3 separate regions of the Homo sapiens genome follow, and regions 2 and 3 are each linked to region 1. A link means that fine-mapping ties the variant in region 1 to the expression of a gene that starts in the linked region. Tissue or cell type: whole blood. Region 1 holds a variant in brackets; each other region holds the start of a gene. All regions are shown on one strand. Distances are from middle to middle.

Evidence for each region. PIP is the estimated chance that this variant, and not a neighbour inherited with it, causes the effect.
Region 2: TRIM46 starts here. The variant in region 1 is fine-mapped to the expression of TRIM46 in whole blood (TOPMed, PIP above 0.99). The same link has a PIP of 0.9 or more in blood mononuclear cells.
Region 3: GBA1 starts here. The variant in region 1 is fine-mapped to the expression of GBA1 in whole blood (TOPMed, PIP above 0.99).

What each region holds. Positions count from the first base shown.
Region 1 is chr1:155,424,775-155,433,018 of GRCh38, forward strand. All of the region lies in intron 5 of ASH1L (ASH1 like histone lysine methyltransferase), which reads right to left. Among named protein-coding and RNA genes, the nearest start is that of MIR555, 82 kb to the left of the region's middle. The variant C/A (reference allele first, on the strand shown) is at 3,419.
Region 2 is chr1:155,170,102-155,178,101 of GRCh38, forward strand. TRIM46 (tripartite motif containing 46) reads left to right here and starts at 3,748. Exons shown (of 10, transcript NM_025058.5): 1 at 3,748-3,928; 2 at 5,285-5,546; 3 at 5,787-6,130; 4 at 6,831-6,974; 5 at 7,094-7,189; 6 at 7,901-8,000. The coding sequence starts at 3,866. It overlaps KRTCAP2 (keratinocyte associated protein 2), which reads right to left and starts at 3,203. Exons shown (of 5, transcript NM_173852.4): 1 at 3,120-3,203; 2 at 2,637-2,791; 3 at 2,464-2,527. The coding sequence starts at 3,123. RefSeq lists enhancers at 2,583-2,862, 2,966-3,474, 3,053-3,152, 3,353-3,402, 3,475-3,983 and silencers at 3,733-3,822, 3,992-4,286.
Region 3 is chr1:155,237,443-155,245,442 of GRCh38, forward strand. GBA1 (glucosylceramidase beta 1) reads right to left here and starts at 3,807. Exons shown (of 11, transcript NM_000157.4): 1 at 3,644-3,807; 2 at 3,188-3,275; 3 at 2,444-2,635; 4 at 2,174-2,320; 5 at 1,075-1,208; 6 at 692-864; 7 at 1-136. The coding sequence starts at 3,670. RefSeq lists an enhancer at 6,352-7,315.

The DNA of each region.
Region 1 (8,244 bases):
CATGTATAGTTTGTGTTTGTAAATTTTGATAAATTTTAACTTTTTATTTGAGACAGAGTCTTGCTTTTTTGCCCAGGCTGGAGTGCAATGGCATGATGTTGGCTCACTGCAACCTTCGCTACCCAGGGTTCAAATGATTCTGCCTCAGCCTCACAAGTAGCTGGGAGTATAGACACCCACCACCTCACCTGGCTAGTTTTTGTGTTTTTTTTTTGAGACAGAGCCTTACTCTGTGGCCAGGCTGGAGTGCATTGGAGCAACATCAGCTCACTGCAATCTCCGCCTCCCAGGTTCAAGTTATTCTCCTGCCTCAGCCTCCTCAGTAGCTGTGATTAAAGGCATGCACAACCATGCCCGGCTAATTTTTGTATTTTTAGTAGAGACAGGGTCACCATGTTGGTCAGGCTGGTCTCGAACTCGAACTCCTGACCTCAAGTGATCCACCCACCTTGGTCTCCCAAAAGTGCTGGGATTACAGGCATGGGCCACCACGCCCGGCCTAGTTTTTTTTTTTTTTTTTTGAGACAGAGTCTTCCTCTGTCGCCCAGGCTGGAGTGCAGTGGCGCGATCTCGGATCACTGCAGCTTCTGCCTCCTGGGTTCAAGTGATTTTCCTGCCTCAGCCTCCAGGTAGCTGGGATTACAGGCACTCACCATCATGCAGGGCTATTTTTTTTTTTTTTGAGGTGGAGTCTCGCTCTGTTGCCCAGGCTGGAGTGCAATGGTGCGATCTTGGCTCACTGCAATCTCTGCCTCCTGGGTTCAAGCGATTCTCCTGCCTCAGACTCCTAAGTAGCTGGGATTACAGGCATGTGCCACCATGCTTAATTTTTTGTATTTTTAGTAGAGACCAGGTTTCACCATGTTGGTCAGGCTGGTCTTGAACTCCTGACCTCATGATCTGCCTGCCTTGGCCTCCCAAAGTGCTGGGATTACAGGCGTGAGCCACCACACCCGGCCAAGCAGGGCTAATTTTTTTATTTTTAGTAGAGAAGAGGTTTCACCACGTTGGCCAGGCTGGCTCGAACTCCTGACCTCAGGTGATCCACCCACCTCAGCCTCCCAAAGTACCAGGATTACAGGTGGGAGCCCCCATGCCTGGCCTAATTTTTTTTGTGGTGTTTTTTTTTTTTGAGACGGAGTCTCGCTCTGTCACCCAGGCTGCAGTGCAGTGGCGCGATCTCGGCTCACTGCAAGCTCTGCCTCCTGGGTTCACGCCATTCTCCTGCCTCAGCCTCCCAAGTAGCTGGGACTACAGGCGCCTGCCACCATGCCCGGCTAATTTTATTTATTTATTTATTTATTTTTTAAGACAGGGTCTCACTCTGTCACCCAGGCTGGAGTGCAATGGCACGATCTTGGCTCACTGCAACCTCTGCCTCCCAGGTTCAAGTGATTCTCCTGCCTCAGCCTCCCTAGTAGCTGGGATTACAGGAGTGTGCCATCATGCCCGGCTAATTTTTTTTTTTGTATTTTAGTAGAGATGGGGTTTCACCATGTTGCCCAGGCTGGTCTCGAACTCCTGAGCTCAAGCAATCCACCTGCCTTGGCCTCCCAAAGTGCTAGGATTACAGGCATGAGCCACCGCACCCAGCTTTTTGTATTTTTTAGTAGAGACGGGGTTTCACCGTGTTAGCCAGGATGGTCTCGATCTCCTGACCTCGTGATCCGACCGCCTCGGCCTCCCAAAGTGCTGGGATTACAGGCGTGAGACACCGCGCCTGGCCCATTAATTTTTATATTTTTAATAGAGATAGGGTTTCACCATGTTGGCCAGGATAGTCTCGAACTTCTGACCTCAGGTGATCTGCCCACATCAGACTCCCAGTGAAATTTTAACTTTTTATAATAGATTTGTGTATATCTTATGTCTTTCTGCAAACAATAAAATGGATTAACATCTACAAATATTTTATCCGTTCATGACATACTTTTTAATTTTTTTGACTATTTCTAGGCTACACCTACTATGTATCCACAAAAAATAAAAATTAAAAACTAAAAAATTTTTTTCTAGGCTACACAGTTCATCTGTGAGTTTAAGTATCGCAAATCTCAAATCTGTGTTGTTCAAGGGTCAACTGTATTTAATCAACTGGGAGTTGATTTTTTGTATAGAGGATAAGACAGAATCCAATTTCCTTCTGATCCCCAGGGATTTCAACTTACTGGGCACAATTTGTTGAACAGTTCTTTATATGCCTCTGTTACCCAGCAAGCTTCCATATATGTGTAGGTCTGTTTCTTTTATCTATTCAATTCCACACCACCTTAATACTCCATAGCTTGAAATTAAGTCTTGGGACAAATCCTTTATTTTATTCAGTAATTACCTTTCCAGGTATATACTCTGATATAATTTTTTTTTTTTTTTTTTTTGAGACAGAGTCTCGCTCTGTCACCCAGGCTGGAGTGAAGTGGTCTGATCTCAGCTCACTGCAACCTTCACCTCCAAGGTTCTAGCAATTCTGCTGCCTCAGCCTCATGAGTAGCTGGGATTACAGGCATGCAGCACCACACCTGGCTAATTTTAATTTTTCTTTTTTTTTTTGAGATGGAGTCCCGCTCTTGTTGCCCAGGCTGGAGTGCAGTGGCCAGATCCCGGCTCACTGCAACCTCCGCCTCCCGGGTCCAAGCGATTGTCCTGCCTCAGGCTCCTGAGTAGCTGGGACTATAGGCGCCCACCACCTGGCTAATTTTTGTACTTTTTAGTAGAGACAGGGTTTCGCCGTGTTGGCCAGGCTGGTCTCAAATTCCTGACCTCAGGTGATCCGCCCACCTCGGCCTCCCAAAATGCTGGGATTACAGGCAAGAGCGACTGCGCCCGGCTAATTTTTCTATTTTTAGTAGAGATGGGTGTTCACTATGTTGGCCAGGCTGGTCTTAAACTCCTGACCTCAGGTGATCCACCCACCTCGGCCTCCCAAATTGCTGGGATTACAGGCACAAGCCACTGCACCCGGCCCCTGATACAGTTTGGATGTGCGCCCTGCCCACATCTCACGCTGGAATGTAATCACCAATATTGGTGGTGAGACCTGGTGGGAGGTGACTGGACCATGGGGGTGGTTTTCTCTTAAGCAGTTTAGCACCATCCCCCGATGCTGTCGTTGCCATAGTGAGTGAGTTCTGTTGAGATCTGGTGCTTTAAAAAGTGTATGGCACTTCGTCCTTCTCCTTCTTGCTCCTGCTCTAGCCCTGTAACCAGTATACTCCCCATGACTGTAAGTTTCCTGAAGCCTCCCCAGAAGCCTAGGAGATGCCAGCATCATGCTTACTATACAGCCTGCAGGACCATGAACGAATTAAACCTCTTTTCTTTATAAATTACCCAGTCTCAGGTATTTATAGCAATGTGAGAACAAATTAGTATAATGCCTTAAGTCTGGGTGCAGTGGCTCACGCCTGTAATCCCAGCA[C/A]TTTGGGAGGCCAAGGCAGGTGGATCACCTGAGGTCAGGAGTTCAAGACCAGCCTGACCAACATGGTGAAACCCCGTCTCTACTAAAAGTACAAAAAAATTAGCCGGGTGTGGTGGTGGGCGCCTCTAATCCCAGCTACTCGGGAGACTGAGGGCAGGAGAATTGCTTGAACCCAGGAGATGGAGGTTGCAGTAAGCCGAGATTGTGCCACTGCACTCTAGCTTAGGCGACAACAATGAAATTCCGTCTCAAAAAAAAAAATATATATATATATGTTGGGAACAGGCCCCCCAAAATCTGGCCATAAACTGGCCCCAAAACTGGCCATAAACAAAATCTCTTCAGCACTGTGACATGTTCATGATGGCCATGACACCCACGCTGGAAGGCTGTGGGTTTACCAGAATAAGGGCAAGAAACACCTGGCCCACCCAGGCTGGAAAACCGCTTAAAGGCGTTCTTAAACCACAAACAATAGCATGAGCGATCTGTGCCTTAAGGACATGCTCCTGCTGCAGGTAACTGGCCAAACCCATCCCTTTATTTCGGCCCATCCCTTTGTTTCCCATAAGAGATACTTTTAGTTAATCCCGTTTCCCATAAGGGATACTTTTAGTTAATCTAATATCTATAGAAACAATGCTAATGACTGGCTTGCTGTTAATAAATACGCGGGTAAATCTCTGTTCGGGGCTCTCAGCTCTGAAGGCTGTGAGACCCGATTTCCCACTTCACACCTCTATATTTCTGTGTGTGTGTCTTTAATTCCTCTAGCGCCACTGGGTTAGGGTCTCCCCGACCGAGCTGGTCTCGGCATATATATATATACAATGCTTTAGAGAAATTAGTGTCCATATCCACCAGTGGACATTAGAGGAATATTAAAAGCAGTTTTTTTGGGCAATAACCTCAAGTTGAAAATAATCCAAGAGTAAAATCGAAGAACTGTATTACACACAAACAATGAAACAACACATTAAAACTACAGCAACATGCATTAACATACATAATTTAACATGACTATGTTGAGCAAAAAAAGGTGAGACACAATAGTATATGTCCTCTGTAATTAATTTTGTTTGTTTGTTTTTGCTTTTTTGAGACAGGGTCTCACTCTGTCACCCTGGGTGGATTGCAGTGATGTGATCTTGGCTCACTGCAATCTCTACCTCCTGGGCTCAAGTGATTCTCCCACTTGGCTTCCTGAGTAGCTAGGACTACAGGCGTGTGCTACCACAACTGGCTAACTTTTTGTATTCTTAGTAGAGACGATGTTGCCTAGGCTACTCTCAAACTCCTGGGTTCAAGCGATCCACACGCCTCGGCTTCCAAAATTGCTGAAATTACAGGCATGATATGGCACCCAACCTGTATAATTAGATTTACATGAAATTCAGGAAGAATAAGCTGTATTGTTTAGAGCTGCACACATAAATAGTATTTTAAAAGGTAAATATGTGGTTACCTTAAAAGTCAGAAGATTGGTTATAGCTTCTGGCAAGAAAAGGGGTTTACAAACAGGGAAAGTATGGTCACCTCCTGAATATTTATATGGGTACGACCTCTACAGAAAATTTACTTAGCTTATGTTATGTATTCTCTTGTTTGTCTCTTATTTGTTTTTTAAGACAGGTTCTCGCTTTGTCACCCAGGATGGAATGTGGTGGCACGATTATGGCTCACTGTAGCCTCGACCTCCTGGACAAGCTCAAGCAATCCCTTAACACCTCAGCCTCCCTAGTAGCTGGGACTACAGGCACACATCAGCACGTCCAGCTGATTTTTAAGTTTTTTTTTTTTTGAGACAGAGTCTCACTCTGTCGCCCAGGCTGGAGCGCACTGATGCGATCTCAGCTCACTGCAACCTCCGCCTGCCAGGTTCAAGCAATTCTCCTGCCTCAGCCTCCCGAGTAGCTGGGATTACAGGCATGCGCCACCACACTTGGCTGATTTTTAAGTTTTTTGTAGAGATGGAGTTTCCCTATGTTGCCCAGGGTGGTCTTCAACCCCTGGGCTCCAGCAATACTCCTGCCTCTGCCTCCCAAAATGCTGGGACTACAGGTGTGAGCCACCTCATCTGGCCTGTTTATGTATTCTCTTTAGATGTATCCTCTTCTGTTTGCAGCCCATATTCTCTTTAATGAGATGGGAATAATATTTTTCTTGAAAGTGTGGTAGAAGTTAAAATTGGGTCTGATGCTGTTCTTGGGGCAAGACTTTAAATAATAGATTCAATTTAGGCAATAGGAGTGCTCAGGTAATTTCTTTTGAGTATGTTTTGTTAAAATTGTATTTTTCTAGGAACATGTCCATTTCAACAGTTTTCCCATTTGATGGGCTTAAAGTTCTCACAGTAGTAAATTTTTAATCTCTTATATACACTTTATTTCCTTTTAAATCCCTATTTATTCCCTTTCTCATTCCTATTGATCGGCTTTACCAGAAGTTTGTCTATTTTATTAGTTTTCAAAGAACTTTGGTCTTAAAAGTGACTCTTACTGTTATACATTTGCCTTATTTTATTAACTTAAGGTGTATGTTTTACATTCTTCCAATATCATTTTCAGGCTCATTCACTTGTTCTTTTAATTTCTTATTTTCATAAAATTGTTTTTAGAAATAGGGTTTTGCCATTGCCCAAGCTGGTCTCAAACTCCTGGGTTCAACCAATCCTCCAGCCTCAGCCTCCAGAGTAGCTGAGACTATTGGTGTGGCCAGCAAGCTCTTAACAATTTTTTTCGGTCAGGTGTGGTAGCTCACGCCTGTAATCCCAGCACTTTGGGAGGCCAAGGTGGGCAGACTTGAGGTCAGGAGTTCGAGACCACCCTGGCCTATATGGTGAAACCCTGTCTCTACTAAAAATGCAAAAATTAGCCGGGCATGGTGGCAGGACCTGTAATCCCAGCTACTCCAGAGGCTGAGGCAGGAAAATCGCTAGAACCCAAGAGGTGGAGGTTGCAGTGAGCCAAGCCATTGTACTCCAGCCTGGGCAACAGAGCAAGATGCCGTCTCAACAACAACAAAAATATATATATATATAATATTTACATATAATATACATTATAAGATACATATTTTTAGAGACAAAGTCTTGCTATAATATATATGTATTTTTAGAGGCAAGGTCACACTCTGTCACCAAGGCTGGAGTGCAGTGAAGGAACACAGCTCATTGCAGCCTCAACCTCCTGAGTGCAAGTGATCCTCCCACCTCAGCCTCCCAAGTAGCTAGAACCACAGACACGAGCCACCACGCTCATTTAATTTTTAAATGTTTTGTAGAGATGGACCAGGTGCGGTGCTCACACCTGTAATCTTAGCACTTTGGGAGGTCAAGTTGAGAGGATCGCTTGAGTGCAGGAGTTCAAAACCAGCCTGGGTAACATAGTGAGACCCCATCTCTACAAAAAACACAAAAATTAGCCAGGCCTGGTGGCCCCCGCCTGCAGTCCCAGCCACTGTGGGGGAGGGATGGGGGTGGAGACGCTTGAGCCCGGGAGGTGGAGGTTGCAGTGAACTGAGATTGTGCCACTGTAGTCCAGCCTGGGGGACGCAGCAAGACCCTGTCTAAAATAAACAAACAAACAAACAGTTCTTTGTAGAAACGGTAGCTACAACCAGCCACACTGCTCAGGCTGTCTTGAACTCCTGGCCTCAAGTGATCCTCCTGCCTCAGCCTGACAAACTGCTGGGATTACAGGTGTGAGCCACCACACCTGGCCTGATTTTATTTTTTACAGCAAAAATTTATAAGTGTTTTAAAAATATACCTTTTTCTTTTTAAAACCAGGATTTGAACCTAGGTTTTCCGAGTCTAGAAGCCCACCTCATAACCATTAAATTCTTCCTGTGCATTCTGGTTTTATATTAATCAACAAATAGTGACCAAAATCTTTAATATATCATACAAGGTTCTTGGCACAATCTGATCCCTACAACCTCTATCTGTATCCCATGCTACTCTACTCCATGTTTTGACCACAAAAGCTTTCTTTCGCTTGCCTGAAACTATCATGCTTTTTCAGACTTTTGTGTATGCTCTCTCCTCACTCCTTTAAATAACAGATGAAGCCTATTCTTCACATTTTTAGCATAGTCCTTACTTTTTCTGGGAAACTAAGTTAGTTATTTCTATTATATACAGTACTCTTATAACTCTAAGTAACTCTTCATAATAGCACTTGGATGGTTAAAATCCATGAAGGTAGGAAAAGTTTCTAGATTTATTCACCACTCTATCAATTCTAAGTACATGAAACATAATAATCTTCCAACAAATACTAATTGAAAAAATAAATGAATACATATTATATAACAAGTACTAGTGTAAGCTCCAATTAGAACAAGTTGAAAAACTGTTGCTATCTCTGGGAACTCAGTGTGTCATGTCCTTCCCTACACAATCTCTTGAGGGCAGAAATTTTATCTTTCTCTTTATAATCTCTTCAAATCTCAGAATACAATCTTGTGAAAAAGTATGTGTTTAATTTTGCTGACCATGATACTAGAATTTGCTGGAATAGAAAGGCTAACCTATTCAAAAGCCTTTTTTGTCGTTGTTGAGACGAAGTCTTACTCTGTCATCCAGGTTGGAGTGCAGTGGTACAATCTAGGCTCACTGCAACCTCTGCTTCCCTGGCTCAAGCGATCCCCCCACCTCAGCCTCCCAAGTAGCTGGGACCACAGGCGTGCAACACCACCACGCCCAGCTAATTTATTGTATTTTTTGGTAAAGACGGGGTTTCACCATGTTACCCAGGCTGATGAAAGCCTTTTCTTGAAGCACATTTTAAAGATGACCCTTCCTAACATAAATGGTCAAGATG
Region 2 (8,000 bases), 250 kb before region 1:
CTTGAGCCCAGGAGTTTGAGACCAGCCTGAACAACAAAGTGAGACCCATCTCTTAAAAAAAAAAAAAATTGAATTAAAAAAAATTTAGCCAGGTAGTACAGTGGTACACATGCCTGTAGTCCCAGCTATTCAGGAGGCTGAAGTTGGAGGAACCCTTGAGCCAGGAAGTTCAAAGTTGCAGTGAACTGTGATCGCACCACTGCACTCCAGCCTGGGCAACAGAGTGAGACCCCGTCTCCAAAAAAAAAAAAAAAAAAAAAGAACATGGATGTAGATGTATGCTTTTTTTTACCAGCTCTGCCCCATATCTCACATAACTTCCCTACCCTGGCTTTCCTCCCATAAAAGGAAAAAGGAAAGGTGATGGACAACAGAGTCTGAAGGGCAAGGTGTGTTCCCATTTGGGGAACCCAGTTAAACCCTTTCCAAAAGAAGCCAGACAATGAGAGTCAATTCATTAAGCTGGGTGACCAGTGGTGGAAGTTGAAGGCCTTGCTCCCTGGACACAGGTTGGAGGGCAGAGTGCTTGGATCTACTTCTTCATGGGGGCAGGAAAGGATTTTAGGTTACCTGGAATATGATGGGAGAGAAGGTGAGAGGACAAAAGCAAAGACAAACAGGGCCCCACCTGCCCAGGTGGAGAGGGCAGAGAAGGCAAAGTGGGCCAAGAACTTTGCCCCACCACAATGGCATCTTTTCTTTTTTTATTATTTTTTTTTATTTTTGAGGCAGAATCTCACTCTGTCGCCCAGGCTGGAGTGCAGTGGTGCAGTTTCAGCTCACTGCAGCCTTGATCTCCTGGGCTCAAGCGATCATCCCACCTCAGCTTCCCGAGTACCTGGGACTATAGGTGCGTACCACCATGCCCGGCTAATTTTTGTATTTTTTTGGAGAGACAGGGTCTCTCTATGTTGCCCAAGCTGGTCTTGAATTCCTGGGCCCAAGCTATCTGCCAGCCTACACCTCCCAAAGTGCTAGGATTACAGGCGTGTGCCATCCCACCCAGCCAATGGTTTCTTTCAGAAGCAACTGAAAAGCCAGGCACAGTGGCTCACCCCTGTAATCCCAGCACTCTGGGAGGCCAAGACGGGTGGATCACTTAAGGTCAGGAGTTCAAGACCAGCCTAACCAACATGGTGAAATCCTATCTCTACCAAAAATACAAAAATTAGCCAGTTATGGTGGCGCACGCATGTAATCCCAGCTACTCGGGAGGCTGAGGCAGGAGAATCGCTTGAACCTGGGAGGCAGAGGCTCCAGTGAGCTGGGTTCACACCACTGTACTCCAGCATGGGTGACAGAGCGAGACTCCATCTCAAAAAAAAAAAAAAAAAGAAGCAAGTGAAGGTAATACATATGGAAACAAAACCTAACAGAGAGAAGTCCCGGGGCTACTGGATGGAAAGAACTCTGAAGCCTGCAAAAGGGCTATGCGGAGAAAGCAAGTCCTAGAGGGGGGCAAAGAAATGAGGGCAGCCAGGCACAGTGGCTCACACCTGTAATTCCAGCACTCTGGGAGGCTGAAATAGGAGGATCACTTGAGCCCAGGAGTTCGAGACCAGCCTGGGCAATGTGGTGAAACCCCATCTCTACAAAAACTTAAAACAGTAGCTGGGTGTGGTGGCACTCACTGGTAGTCCCAGCTACTGGTAAGACTGAGGAGGGAAGATTGCTTGAGACCAGGTCAAGGCTTCAGTGATCACATCCCTGCACTCCAGCCTAGGCGACAGAGTAAAGCCTTGTCTCAAAAAAAAAAAAAAAAAAAAAAGAGAAAAGATTAAGGGCAACCATGATAGATCTTTGTTTTACCACATGAGGGTTTTACATGAGATTGCATCTGCTGTGAATTTCTGAGCACGTGGCATTCCTTAAGTAATCTGGCCTTGACACTTAATTTGCTTTATAAACTTAATTCTCCATAAATAACTGAATCATCAATTCTTGATTACATGAGCAATTGAACAAGAATTATTCCAAACAGGAAATAATCTAACAGTTATTCTGATTTGGTCAGGATTCCTGCTGCCATAGATATTTGGTGCCTCTAGTATTTAGGCTCTTCACAATTCCCTCAAATAAGTAGAATTCTCTAATATTGAGTTAACTTCACATCAGAACTCCATAGTGAACTTGGTCCTGCTGCTTCTTCTGGTGGGAACAAGGACCGCCTCCCAGCGAATAGATGCAAAACATCAGCCCAAATTTGCCTGTTCCCCTCAAACCTTCCCTGGGAGCTGGCCAGAAGGTACCAAAGTTTCTTGCTTTCAAAGGCCTTCTCTTCCAGCTCCAACTCCAGGAGCTATACAAGGTGCAGAATCGAAAAGCGTCATCTGTCTTCAGACAGCTTCAGTAAATATATTTCTCCTTAACAACCTTTCACCTAAGCATCTGGAAATTCAATATCATGTTTCAGGAGGTTAAAGAGGAGAAAGTTCAAATACTCAAGCTCCAATATTCACTTACTCTCAGGGAAGATCTTTGCTTGGAATCCTTTGCCAAAGACAAGATTCTCCAGATTATTGAAGGCCTGGTTGAGGGAGTTAAGGAGTAGGGTGTGCAACGGGGACAGAGCTGTGTGGGGAAGGGGAAGGGCACATGCCTACGTGGCCCGCCCCCTCCAACTGCAGGGAGGATACAGTGAGCGAGAACACGAAGAGACCCGAACCAAGCAGGCCGCCCTGGATGGTGAGCCACTCGGTGGAGGCCAGCTGACGGCTGTACATCTGCATCCCAGCAAAGAGCAGCAGGGACAGGAGGGAGGAGAGCGCCAGCGAGGTGCCCGTACCCACCACTGGAGGGGATGGGAGAAGGGACGGAGAGTCAGGCTCCGCCCTCCCTCCGGCAAGCTACGGGCAGATCAGCCGGTCCGGAAGCTCGGTGGGCCGACCCCCTCCAAGAACTCCCGGGACTGCAGCCACACGCCCCAACTCCCCACACCGCGCGGCAACCCCTACGTATTCCCCAGCCCCGGACACCCCGAACCCTCCCGTCCGGTGGAAATGCCCGCTCCCGGTGGAACCCAGGACACGTCAGCTCTGTCGGGAGAGGACGAGGAAAGCTTGTCCACCCAAACCCCGACCCCCTCTAGGACTTCCTGGGGACCCCACCGGTCCTGTTACCCATCATGCCCCGCCCGTGAGTCCAACCGGCGCCTCTGGCCAAGAAAGGCGAGCTGAACCGGGTGCGGTTAGCTATGCGCATGCGTCAGCGCTTACCGCGGACTTGCTACTCCTCGCGTTCTCCTCTTTCTTCCTCTCAGTGCCTGGACGCAGCGCCCTCTTGCGACAGGGAGGAAATAATGCGTCGAGGGGGCATCCTCGGCCACCGCCCTGGTCCTCAGGCTTTCCTCGTACCTGGTGCGTCTGCTGCCACTCTGTACAAGGTGCACTTATCTCTTTAAGTCATTGGGCCCATGCCTGTGGCATCTATCCCATCTCTGTCTTCTTTGCCATTTCTTTCATCTCTAGTGCACGTTCCTCAAACCTCCCTGCCCCATGCCTCAACATCTCCCAACCTAAAATTTAGTGCTCCCAACCAGGAACTCATTTTCCTCCGAAACTAATCCCCCGCTTTATATGAGTAAAATTAGGAGCCAATGAAAAATGAGAATGTAAGAAATGGCTCCCCCGTCAAATACCTTTCCATATTCCCCAACCCCCCGACCGGCTTTCGAGAACCACGTGGGGAGAACTATTTCCCACCCCCTACCCCGACGGGCGCTGTTCGAGGCTGGTCCCGGGAGCATGCGCAGTGACACCTCAACCCCCAGCCCTCCTCACACCCCCACTGGGCTCCTGCATTAAGCCCGGGGTTCGCAGCCGCAGCCGGGATCGGGCACCCAGGGGCGGGCGGGCACGGTAGGGCCATGGCAGAGGGTGAGGATATGCAGACCTTCACTTCCATCATGGACGCACTGGTCCGCATCAGTGTGAGTTAAGGTGGGGTCGAGGGAAGGGGAGGGGGCGTATAGGGTTCTGGGGCAAGCTGGGACCTGGAACAGGTGGGGATCCAGGAAGATGCTGGGATGTAGACAGGGGGCTAGCGATGGCAGAAACGGCTGGGAGGGTCGGGATGCAGGTATGAGAGGGTAATCCCGGGAGCAGCCCGGAGGTGAGTGCCGTGAAGGCGTCGGTGTGCTGGAGCGTGAGGAGGAGCTAGGAGCAGCCCAGACGCAGCGGGTGGGCTGGGGTGGCCTCCAGCAGTGCACCGGGGCTGGGGCTTCAGGGGAAAGGCCCTGTTATGAGAAGAGGGACGTGTGAGCTTGGATATTTTCCAAGAAAACTGAGGACAGGTGGGGGATGATGTAGGAGCCGCCCCACAGTGCAGTTCCCAATTTGGACCCCTCCCCAAGACCCCACCCCACGCACCCCCACTCAGGGCTGCTTCCGAGCCTGCGGTTGTCATGGCAACCCGTGCCTGGCTCTCCCAGGGGCGGTGCCAACCGTGTTCCCCCCCACCACTTCCTCCCCCCCTCCTTGTTCCTCCCTCCTTTGTGTCAGCTGCGCCCCTGACCGGGATGGCTGCGAAGAGAGGGACCAAGGTGAGGTGTGGGGGTGGGGCATAGCCTGAGGACCCCCACTCTCGCCACCAAGAGGGGGAGGGGACTTCCGGTGGGGAGGGGGCGAGTAGGCGGGGCTCTTGATTCCCCCGCTAGTTCGGAGAAGGGGGTGCCGCTGACCGGGTTGCGCTGCGGGAGAGGGCGGGAGGGCCTGATGGGGGCGAAGGGGAATGGGTTGGTAAGACCGATGGGGAAGTGAAGGATGGGGAATGGAGGCTGGAGTGGCCGCAGGCCGGAGCTGCGGCAGGAGGACGTATGGAGCGAGCAGGATGGAGTGCCAACCTCGCCTGGCTATCGGGAGGAATCACGGCATGGGGGTGCTGCTAGAGAAGGGAGTGGGGGTCTGCATGGAGCTGCAGAATGGGCGGTGTCCTTGAGAAAAATGCCAGGGGCAAGCTGCCCAGAGATGGGGGATGGAGGCAGGTGAGGGGGCTGCCAGCTGGGGCTACTGCAGCTGGAGAAATGGGGATTGGGCTTGAGGCTGGAGCAGGCACAAGCTCCAACCGTCCCTCCTCTGGGCCTTTAGCTCTGCAGCGGGGAAAGAGAAGCAAGGGACAGAGGTCTGGGAAGGTCTGTGAACCAGCCCAAGGCAGGTGCTCTGGAAAAGCTGCAGGTAGCTTGTCTTGCTCCTTCCTCAGACCCCTAGGGTATCCAAGGGCAGCCAAGGGGCTGCTGAGGTATGCCTAAGTGTCCAAGCGCTGACCTAGCCTCCTGGTCCCTCCACAGACCAGCATGAAGAACATGGAGAAGGAACTGCTGTGCCCAGTGTGTCAAGAGATGTACAAGCAGCCACTGGTGCTGCCCTGTACCCACAACGTGTGCCAGGCCTGTGCCCGAGAGGTCTTGGGCCAGCAGGGCTACATAGGACATGGTGGGGACCCCAGCTCCGAGCCCACCTCTCCTGCCTCCACCCCTTCCACCCGCAGCCCCCGCCTCTCCCGCAGAACTCTCCCCAAGCCAGACCGCCTGGACCGGCTGCTTAAGTCAGGTGGGACTGGGGCCTGTAGGGTGGGGATGGGAACGCTGAGCTATTCATCAGGAAGATGGAAGAAGTCCATCACTGGTCAGAGGCATCTGTCTGTCTTTCTGGGGGGTGGAGATACTGCTTACGCAGGCTCTAATGAGAGCTGAGCTCTGGCACAATGAAAATCTAATTTAATTAAACAGGCTTCCCCACACCCAGCCAGCTGTAACTCTCATGTCCTCTACCTCCCTGGTTCACCCACAGGCTTTGGGACATACCCTGGGAGGAAGCGAGGTGCTTTGCACCCCCAAGTGATCATGTTCCCGTGCCCAGCCTGCCAAGGTGATGTGGAGCTTGGGGAGCGGGGTCTGGCAGGGCTTTTCCGGAACCTGACCCTGGAGCGTGTGGTGGAGCGGTACCGCCAGAGTGTGAGTGTGGGAGGTGCCATCCTGTGCCAGTTGTGCAAGCCCCCACCACTAGAGGCCACCAAGGGCTGCACAGAGTGCCGCGCCACCTTCTGCAATGAGTGCTTCAAGCTCTTCCACCCCTGGGGCACCCAGAAGGCCCAGCATGAGCCCACCCTGCCTACCCTCTCCTTCCGACCCAAGGTGAGCCAGCCCTTCCAAGGCCTGGGGAGGGAGGGACATGCTGCTGCAGGTGGGTGGGGGTGCCTGGCATTGTGGGTTTCCAAAAGGAAGTGGGAAGGGTTTTCCAATGCTAAGCACCTATCTCTGTAATCTGTCACAAAGTCACTGGACAAATCATTCAACAACTTTGGGCCTCCATCTCATTTACATCCCTGTAGGGGGATGGTAGTATCTGCCCTGCAATGTCCATACCTAAAGGGTTGCTGAGAGGATGGTGTGAGATAATGTTTGTTCACTAAAAAGTGTTACCTGCACACTGAAAAGGTCTGTGTGCATTCACTCACTGAACAAATATTTATTGAGCACCTATGTGCATGGTGCTATTCTAGGTGTTGGAGATACAGCAGTAAACAAGATGGACAAGGTTAATTATTAACTACCAGGCAAAGATTAATTGGCATCATTATTACTGTTATTACCATATATCCCAATGAGAGAGATGAAGGGAGGTGCAATGCTGGTGAAATGGGCACCGCCCGGAGACTGCAGGAAAGGCTCTTTGATGCCAGTATGTACCACCAGGTGGCACTGTGGAGCACCACCAGCGGATGTCTCCACTCCCATCTTGCCAGTGGAGGAGGGCACCAAACTGCTGTAGTGGTAGCATAGCACCCTTACCCACACCATTGTCTGACCATCACATTGTTCTTTGTGTCCCTAGGGCCTTATGTGCCCAGACCACAAGGAAGAGGTGACCCACTACTGCAAGACATGCCAACGCCTGGTATGTCAACTCTGCCGGGTGCGGCGCACCCACAGCGGGCACAAGATCACACCAGTGCTCAGTGCCTACCAGGCCCTCAAGGTAAGGACCCCCCTTATCCAACCCTAGTGCTAACTCACACTCTTACCCTCTTGCACCTCCTCCCAACTGCTGGCTTCTGCAGAGCTGGGCTTGATGCCCACCTCTTTCTTCCCCCTCAGGACAAGCTGACAAAGAGCCTGACATACATCCTGGGAAACCAGGACACGGTACAGACCCAGATCTGTGAGCTGGAGGAGGCCGTGAGGCACACCGAGGTGAGGGAGGGCACAGAGGTAGGCCCTGGGCCCTGCCTGGGAGTAGGGGCAGGAAGGGGGTGTGGGTGATCATGACCCAATCACCTTGTTGCTAGCTCAGGAAGCCCGTGAGGTGTCCAGGTTCTGGTTAAACCAGGTTTGCAGGAACACCAGTGCCCCAGGCCAGGCTGTACCTGGGCTGCAGGAGGGGGCAGGGTGGCTATAGCTCAGGAGAGTGCTCGAAAAACCCCATGCATAGCTCAAAAAACCCCACGCGTAGCTCAGATGCTCTCAGGCTCAGGTGCCTACCGAGGATGTCACGCATTCCCAGTGCTAGAGTGAGGTGATGACTGATACCTTCTGCCAGGTTGCTTGAGCTGGCTGACATGGGGATGGACAACTAAGGATGGCATAGATGCCAGTGGACATTAATTAGTGCAGTCCAAGTGGACATTAGGGTAGCCATGGCCTCGTTCATTTGGATGAGTCACTAAGGGGCAGAGATTATGATGTGGGGTTCCGGGAAGGTTGGCACAAATGACCAGGAGTTGAGTCCATCTAGAGGTGCCTTTGCAGCCATGAGCCCAGGCCCTGTAGGAATGGGTGAGTAGGATTTCCCCAGATCCCTTGTGACCTTAGCCATGCTGTGGCATCCAAGGAGGCCAGCACAAGTGCTGCCTCCAAAAAGAAGATAGTAAGTCACGCATCCTTTGGGTGTTGCTCCCTGGGCAGGTGAGTGGTCAGCAGGCCAAGGAGGAGGTGTCGCAGCTGGTGCGGGGGCTGGGGGCTGTGCTGGAGGAGAAGCGGGCATCACTGCTTCAGGCCATTGAAG
Region 3 (8,000 bases), 190 kb before region 1:
AATGAAGTCTCGCTGATGTTCAGGGGTGAAGCCCAGGCACTGGAAGGGGTATCCACTCAACAGCCCAGCAGAAGGCTCATTTTCAGCTGTCACTGCCCAGAACTGTAACTTGTGCTCAGCATAGGCATCCAGGAACCTGGCAAGAGAAAGGTCATGAATGATCCGGCCAAGAAAGTGGACCAGACCAGCTGGGTGTGGTGGCTCACACCTGTAATCCCAGCACTTTGGGAAGCCGAGGCAGGTGGATCACTTGAGTTCAGGAGTTCGAGAACAGCCTGGCGAAACCCCGTCTCTACTAAAAATAGAAAAATCAGCTGGGCCTGGTGGCAGGCGCCTATAATCCCAGCTACTTGGAAGGCTGAGGCAGGAGAATTGCTTGAACTCAGGAGGCAGAGGTTACAGTGAGTGAAGATGGCGCCACAGCACTCCAGCCTGGGTGACAGAGAGAGAGACTCCTTCTCAAAAAAAAAAAAAAGAAGAAAAATAAAAAGAAAGTGGGCCAGACCGAGAGAACAGGAAGCCTGATGGAGTGGGCAAGATTGACAGGCCCAAGGCTGAAAGGCCCAGAAGGTAGAAAGGTGAGCTGAGGACAGGCAGATCTGGAAGTGGAACTAGGTTGAGGGTTGGGACACAGATCAGCATGGCTAAATGGGAGGCCAGTCCTGATCCCACATCCTTGCTGATCCCTTACTTCACAAAGTATCTGGCCCAGGTCTGGTGGTAGATGTCTCCGGGCTGTCCCTTGAGTGACCCCTTCCCATTCACCGCTCCATTGGTCTTGAGCCAAGTGGGTGATGTCCAGGGGCTGGCAAGGAGTGAAACGGGACGCTGGGCCAACTGCAGGGCTCGGTGAATCAGGGGTATCTAGAGACAAAGGTAGTGAAGAGAGAAGCACCCAGAGTTGGAACACATACTAGCCCAACCAGTGCATCCGGTTCAGCCATTAGCCTCCACCCTCCCACCCCCAGGACAAAACAGCAGGGGACAAAATGTCTGTACAAGCAGACCTACCCTACAGTTTCTCAACCCCCAGACATCAGGGCCCTCAGGGCCTGAAAAAGCTAGAATGCCTACCTTGAGCTTGGTATCTTCCTCTGGGAGGCTGAAGTTGTGCAACTGGAAATCATCAGGGGTGTCTGCATAGGTGTAGGTGCGGATGGAGAAGTCACAGCTGGCCATGGGTACCCGGATGATGTTATATCCGATTCCTACAGAAAAGGATGATCAAGATATGGTAGTCCGAGTCAATAGGAGAGTATGGGACTCTGCTTATCACTTGCCAGTCCTAATAGTGTCTGAGTCAGGGCCAAAGGGAACTTGGGCTCCTGGGTTGGAACCTGTGGAGGCTGGCACCTGGGTGAAGCGCAGGCCTTTCTGAGCCTGAGTCCGTAGCAGTTAGCAGATGATAGGCGGTGAAATCTTATTTCACAGGGCATTAAAACAGGAACCAAATGTCAGGGATGGGCAGAAGTCAGGGTCCAAAGAAAGGGCAAAGAAAAGTGTCAGTGGCTCACGCATGTAATCCCAGCACTTTGGGAGGCCGATGTGGGCAGATCACGAGGTCAGGAGTTCGCAATCATCCTGGCCAACATAGTGAAACCCTGTCTCTACTAAAAATACAAAAAATTAGCCGGGCGTGGTGGCAGGCACCTGTAATCCCAGGTACTCGAGAGGCTGAGACAGGAGAATCACCTGAACCCGGGAGGTGGAGGTTGCAGTGAGCTGAGATTGTGCCACTGCACTCCAGCCTGGGTGACAGTGCGAGACTCTGTCTCAAAAAAAAAAAAAGAAAAAAGAAAAGTGTCTGCTGGGCTCGGTGGCTCACACTTGTAATTCCAGCACTTCGGGAGGCCAAGGCAGGTATATCATTTGAGGTCAGGAGTTTAAGACTAGCCTGGTCAACATGATGAAACCCTGTCTCTACTAAAAATACAAAAATTAGCCAGGTGGTAGTGGCGCACGCCTATAATTCCAGCTACTCAGGAGGCTGAGGCAGGAGAATCACTATAGCCTGGGAGGCAGAGGTTGCTGTGAGGGGAGATCACACCACTGCACTCCTGTCTCGCCGACAGAATGGGCAGAGTGAGATTCTGCCTCAAAAAAATTTTAAAAAAAGAAAAGAAAAACGAAAAGTTTCAATGGCTCTATGTCATCTTGTCCCCTTCCTCCTCACCTTCTTCAGAGAAGTACGATTTAAGTAGCAAATTTTGGGCAGGGGGTGACAGGGCAAGGATGTTGAGAGCAGCAGCATCTGTCATGGCCCCTCCAAATCCCTTCACTTTCTGGAACTTCTGTTCTGGCTGCAGGGTCAGTAGCAGGCCTGAGGACATCCACAGGGAATAAGGGTATCAGTACCCAGCGGGAAACTCCATGGTGATCACTGACACCATTTACCTCTAGGAGGACCCAGCCTGGCCCAGGGGGTGAGGGGTGTAATGGTTACCTGTGCCCGTGTGATTAGCCTGGATGGGCCCCATACTCAGCTCCATCCGTCGCCCACTGCGTGTACTCTCATAGCGGCTGAAGGTACCAAGGGCAGGAAAGGTCGGGGGGTCAAAGGAGTCACAGTATGTGGCATTGCAGACACACACCACCGAGCTGTAGCCGAAGCTTTTAGGGATGCAGGGGCGGGCACCTGGGAGGGAGGGAGTACAAGCAGAGTGAGGTCTGATGAAGACATGGAGAATGGACACATCTGCTAGGAGAGACTGAACACGGTTTCAAAATTCCTCACCCCTTGGCCGGGCGCAGGGGCTCACACCTGTAATCCTAGCACTTTAGGAGGCCGAGGTGGGCGGATCACCTGAGGTGAGGAGTTTGAGACCTGCCTTGCCAGCATGGTGAAACCCCGTCTCTACTAAAAATACAAAAATTAGCTGGGCGTAGTGGTGGCCGCCTGTAATCCCAGCTACCTGGGAAGCTGAAGCAAGAGAATCGCTTGAATCTGGGAGGCAGAGGTTGGAATGAGCCAAAATTGCACCACTGCACTCCAGCCCAGGCAACAGAGTAAGACTCTGTTTCAAAAGAAAAAAAACAAAATCCTCACCCCAAAGTTGGTCTCAGTCACTCAAAAGGATTTATTGAGCACCTACTAAAAGTCTACCACCAGCTTACTGGAAGGCTACCAAAGGACTATGAGGCAGAAGGGAGGCTCTGTGCTACCTCCCCACTGCCTTGACTCACTCACCTGATGCCCACGACACTGCCTGAAGTAGAAGCAATCCTGTGAGGCTGCCAGCCATGATGCTTACCCTACTCAAAGGCTTGGGACATTCCTGAGGACAGAATGAGGAATGACTGAAAAGCAAGCCCCTCTCCACCCCTCAACTACTCTCCTGGGCAGGGCTTAGCTGCCTTTGGGTGCCCATGGCCCGGTCTCCCACATTCATTAGGACAAGGCCCACAGAAACCTGGGTGCAGCTCTCCCTGCAACCCTTCTGATGACAACTCTCTGCCCACCCCAAATCAGGATGCTCCCCACCACTCTTCCCACCCATTTCAACTTCGACCCCTCCCTCCATCTGTGCCTTGCTCAAAGAGCCATGATGGCCCTGGATTCAAAGAGAGTCTGTCATTCATTAAATTCCAGTGCCAGGATTCCAGAAGCACTGTGACAATGCTGATTGGGAGCTCTCTCTCTTACCTCTCTGGAAGGACTTGAAAACTCCATCCCCTCAGGGTCATTAGATGAAGAGAAGACCACAGGGGTTCCAGAGTCTCTGAAGGATAGAGGATCCACTAAACAAAAACAAGGATGCAGGTACCTGCCTTAGCTATAGGCACTAGGTTAGCCCTGCAAGTAATTCCGGCTTCCCGATGTGGATGGGTCATGTGATGACTAGGAGCGTCACATGACACAGGAAGTGAGGCAATCACAGCCATATTTCTAAAGGGCAATTGGCTTCCTCTCATCTGTTACAGATTATATGCCCTATAAAACTCTGGAGGGCATGTATGGGTGACAACTTTAGGAAGAGCCTAGAACACAGATTTGCATGGAGAATGGGGTAGAGGCTCCTAAATCCCAGAGGATGGGAACCACAGCAGGCACACTTCTTTTTTGATAGAAATGTCAAAAAGGTACAAATAAAGCTGATATAATTTAAAAAAAAAAACTTCACTGTGCAAAATACTGACACTACCAAGATGTTTAAGACAGTCTTTGCCCTATAGAGGTGTGTGAGGCATGGAAGTCAGACACACAGATATTTACAGATAAAGACAGAAACGGTAACAGGTGTGCATGGAGAGCTCTCTGAGATGAGGAGGGACCATTCGTGGGTGGGGAATTATCCAGGATGGCTTCACAGAGGAAAAAGTGAGGGGGGTTATTAGCCAGTGAAGTGCAGGGCACAAGAGGGTGGGACACTGGCAGTGGGATGACAGGACTGGAGGGAGGGAGTGGTCAGTGCGGCTCCTCTGCAGCGTCCCTTGTTTCATCATCAGATGCAGATGGTAATAACTGTTCTTCCTTCCTCACAAGACAGGGAGGTTTGTAAAGTCGTTCAAAAACCAAAGTGTTGTACAAAGCCATATCCTCAGTGGACACAAGGAGGAAGCTGTCCATGGTGTGGCCTCATGAACCACATCAAATGAGATTTAGCGGGAGTGGCACACACAGTCATGACCTGACTAATCCCAGCTCTCAGCCCATTTCCTTGCCTGGAAAATGGAGGCAATGCCACAACCTCAAAGGGTGGTTACTGCAGTCAGTGAGGTAAGTGCAGTGCCTGACCACTTGGTAGGCACCTGGGAACTACTTGTCTCTTGTTTGTATTTTTTGTTGTTGTTGTTTTTTGAGACAGAGTCTCACTCTGTTGCCCAGGCTGGAGTGCAGTGGCGTGATCTTGGCTCACTGCAACCTCCACCTCCTGGGTTCGAGTGATTCTCCTGCCTCAGCCTCCCAAGTAGCTGGGATTACAGGTGCCCTCCAACATGCTCAGCTAATTTTTTTATTTTTAGTAGAGATGGGGTTTCACTATGTTGGCCAGGCTGGTCTGAAACTCTGGACCTCAGGTGATCTGCTGCCTTGGTATCCGAAAGTGCTGGGATTACAGGCATGAGCCACTGCGCTGGACCCCAGCCATCCTTTTTGTTCTTTAAATGATCTCAGTGAAGTCTTTCTAGATACACTCCAAGCAAAATTGATCATTTCTTCTTCTAGGTTCCTCCAGTAATTTTTTTTTTTTTGGTTTTGAGACAGAGTCTTGCCCTGTTGCCCAGGCTGGAGTGCAGTGTGATCTCGGCTCAAGCAATTGCCCTGCCTCAGCCTCCTGAGTAGCTGGGATTACAGGAGCCCACCACCATGCCCAGCTAATTTTTGTATTTTTAGTAGAGATGGGGTTTCACCATGTTGGCCAGGCTGGTCTCGAACCCCTGACCTCAGGTGATCCACCAGCCTCAGCCTCCCAAGGTGTTGGGATTATAGCAATGAGCCACCACACCCGGTCCCTCCAGTAATTAAGTACAGTCTCAGTGAGACAGCAAGTTTGGAATCCTGGCTACACCATTTACTGGCTGTTTGACTTTCAATAAATCAATCACTCTAAGCCTCTGTTTCATCTATAAAAGGGGAGTGATAACTCCTACCTCACAGAATTGTTGTGAGGTTTGAGTGTGATAATGTGTCTCTAGTACACTGCTTGACACTAAACATTGCAACATGTCAGGCCTCTGTTCCTGGAGTTCCTTGAAGGAATGTCTTATGCATTCTAAGTATCCTCGTAGATAGCCTGGCACAGGGGTAGCTGTCAAGTTGTAGAATTGAACTAGTTGCTTCACTATGTCAGTAGCCACCCCTTCCAGACTTCTCACTTTTCAAGGAAACATTGCACAGGATTTGTTCTGGGTAGGGCAGGTAATATCTAGTACCTTACTTCCCTCAAGTTCATTCATCTCACAGATATTTCCTGAGCACATTCTACATTTGCCTCTCCTGCTCTATTGAGTTTAGAAGTCCAAACATCTCCTTCCACTTCCCCTCTGCATAGTGAGCCTCTTCTTTTTTGGCCAGGTACTGAGCAATTTTTTGTTTGTTTGTTTGAGACAGGGTCTCCGTATGTTGCCCTGGATGGAGTGTAGTAGCTTGATTTCGGCTCAGTGCAACCTCTGCCTCCAGAATAAGCAATCCTCCCACCTCAGCCTCCAGAATAGCTGGGACTATAGGCGCACACCACCACACCTGGCTAATTTCTGTATTTTTTGTAGAGACGGGGTCTTACTGTGTTGCGCAGGTTGGTCTCAAACTCCTAAACTCAAAGGATCCTCCCGCCTTGGCTTTGCAAAGTGCTGGGATTACAGGGTGAGGCACTGCGCCCAGTCCGCTTGTTTTTTGTTTTGTTTTTTTTTTTGAGACGGAGTATCTCTGTCACCCAGGCTGGAGTGCAGTGGCACGATCTCGGTTCACTGCAACCTCCGCCTCCTAGGTTCAAGCGGAGGGTAGGGACCAGTCCATCCTGGCACCCATCTGCAGCTCCAGTGCGAATCCCAACCCCGACGCTCGTCGCCGGGCTCCGTGAATGTTTGTCACATGTCTGAAGAACGTATGAATTACATAACCTTCTTCCCACTCCACCCCTCAAAAAGCAAGTGGATATAAAGACTTGAAGATTTTATAATCTCTTCTTCATTAGTAAAATCTGACCATCCTTACCGTTAAAAATAATAATGATGGTTGGCCGGGCGCGGTGGCTCACGCCTATAATCACAGCTGTTTGGCAGGCCGAGGCGGGCGGATCACGAGGTCAGGAATTGGAGACCAGCCTGACCAACATGGTGAAACCCCGTCTCTACTAAAAGATACAAAAAATTAGCCGTGCGTGGTGGCGGGTGCCTGTAATCCCACGTACTTGGGAGGCTGAGGTCGGAGAATCGCCTGAACCCGGGAGGCGGAGGTTGCAGTGAGCCAAGAAGGCGCCATTACACTCCAGCCTGGGCGACAGGGCGAGACTCCCTCAAAAAATAATAATAATAACAATAATAATAATAATGGTGAAAAAGGTTAAGTGCGAACGCAGGGAGGGGACAGCTAAGATCCAAAGGTCGAAATATTCATTACGCCTACCGTCGGCGAAGAGAAACAGCAGCCCCAACCGGAGGCAAAACGAAATCCCACCGCAGCCTGCAAAGGCGCCTGGGCGGGACTGGAGACTGGGGCCCCGCGCAGTAAGACTCTGAAGGCAGGATGCAGCCCGACCACCCGCAGCCGCGAGAAAAGCAGCCCTGGGGAGTCGGGGCGGGACCTGGATTGGAAAAGAGACGGTCACTCATGCAGAGGCGGGACTCAGAGCCCTTCCTCAAGTCTCATTGGTCAAGTTGAACGAACAAGTGTCGCTGGCGAGCCGGAGAGAGAGAGAGAGCGAGAGCGAGAGAGCGAGCGAGAGAGAGCGAGAGAGCGAGAGAGCGAGCGAGAGAGAGAGAGAGAGAGAGAGGAGCCGGCGCGAGAACTACGCATGCGTGTCGGCGTTTTCCCGCCAGCACACTGTTGGTGGATGGGGGCGATTGAATTCCCACAGTGAGTCCAGCCCACCGAAGCTCAGAGGATTCCTAACCTTCCTCTTTAGAGAGCCTCAGGTTAGGGAACGTCCAGTGCGCAGAAGCTGCCCCGTGGGAATCCCATTGTCCATCGCCTCCTAATGTTTCGTCCTGGCCGTGCCCTATCCCTTCCTGAGGCTGGGTTGTTATGATGCTGAATTATTCAAGAAGTCTTGCAGCCTGACGCCATCTCTGGGCAGTGCTCCTCCCACCTCCCTGTCTTCCTTGGAGGGCACCACGTTGCCCCTACAAGCACAGGGTCCTGAAGCTGTTTACAGGGCCCCACCCTGCCACTTTAGTATCTTAACGAATGTTTGTTGAGGACCTACTGAGTGTTAGACCCACTGCAATGAGCAAGTTTCTGATCTTGGGACCTTAACATTCTATGGGACGACACAGATATATAAACAAAAATAATAATTTTAGATAGTGATACATGCTGAAACCATGGGTATGTGGCCAGGCGC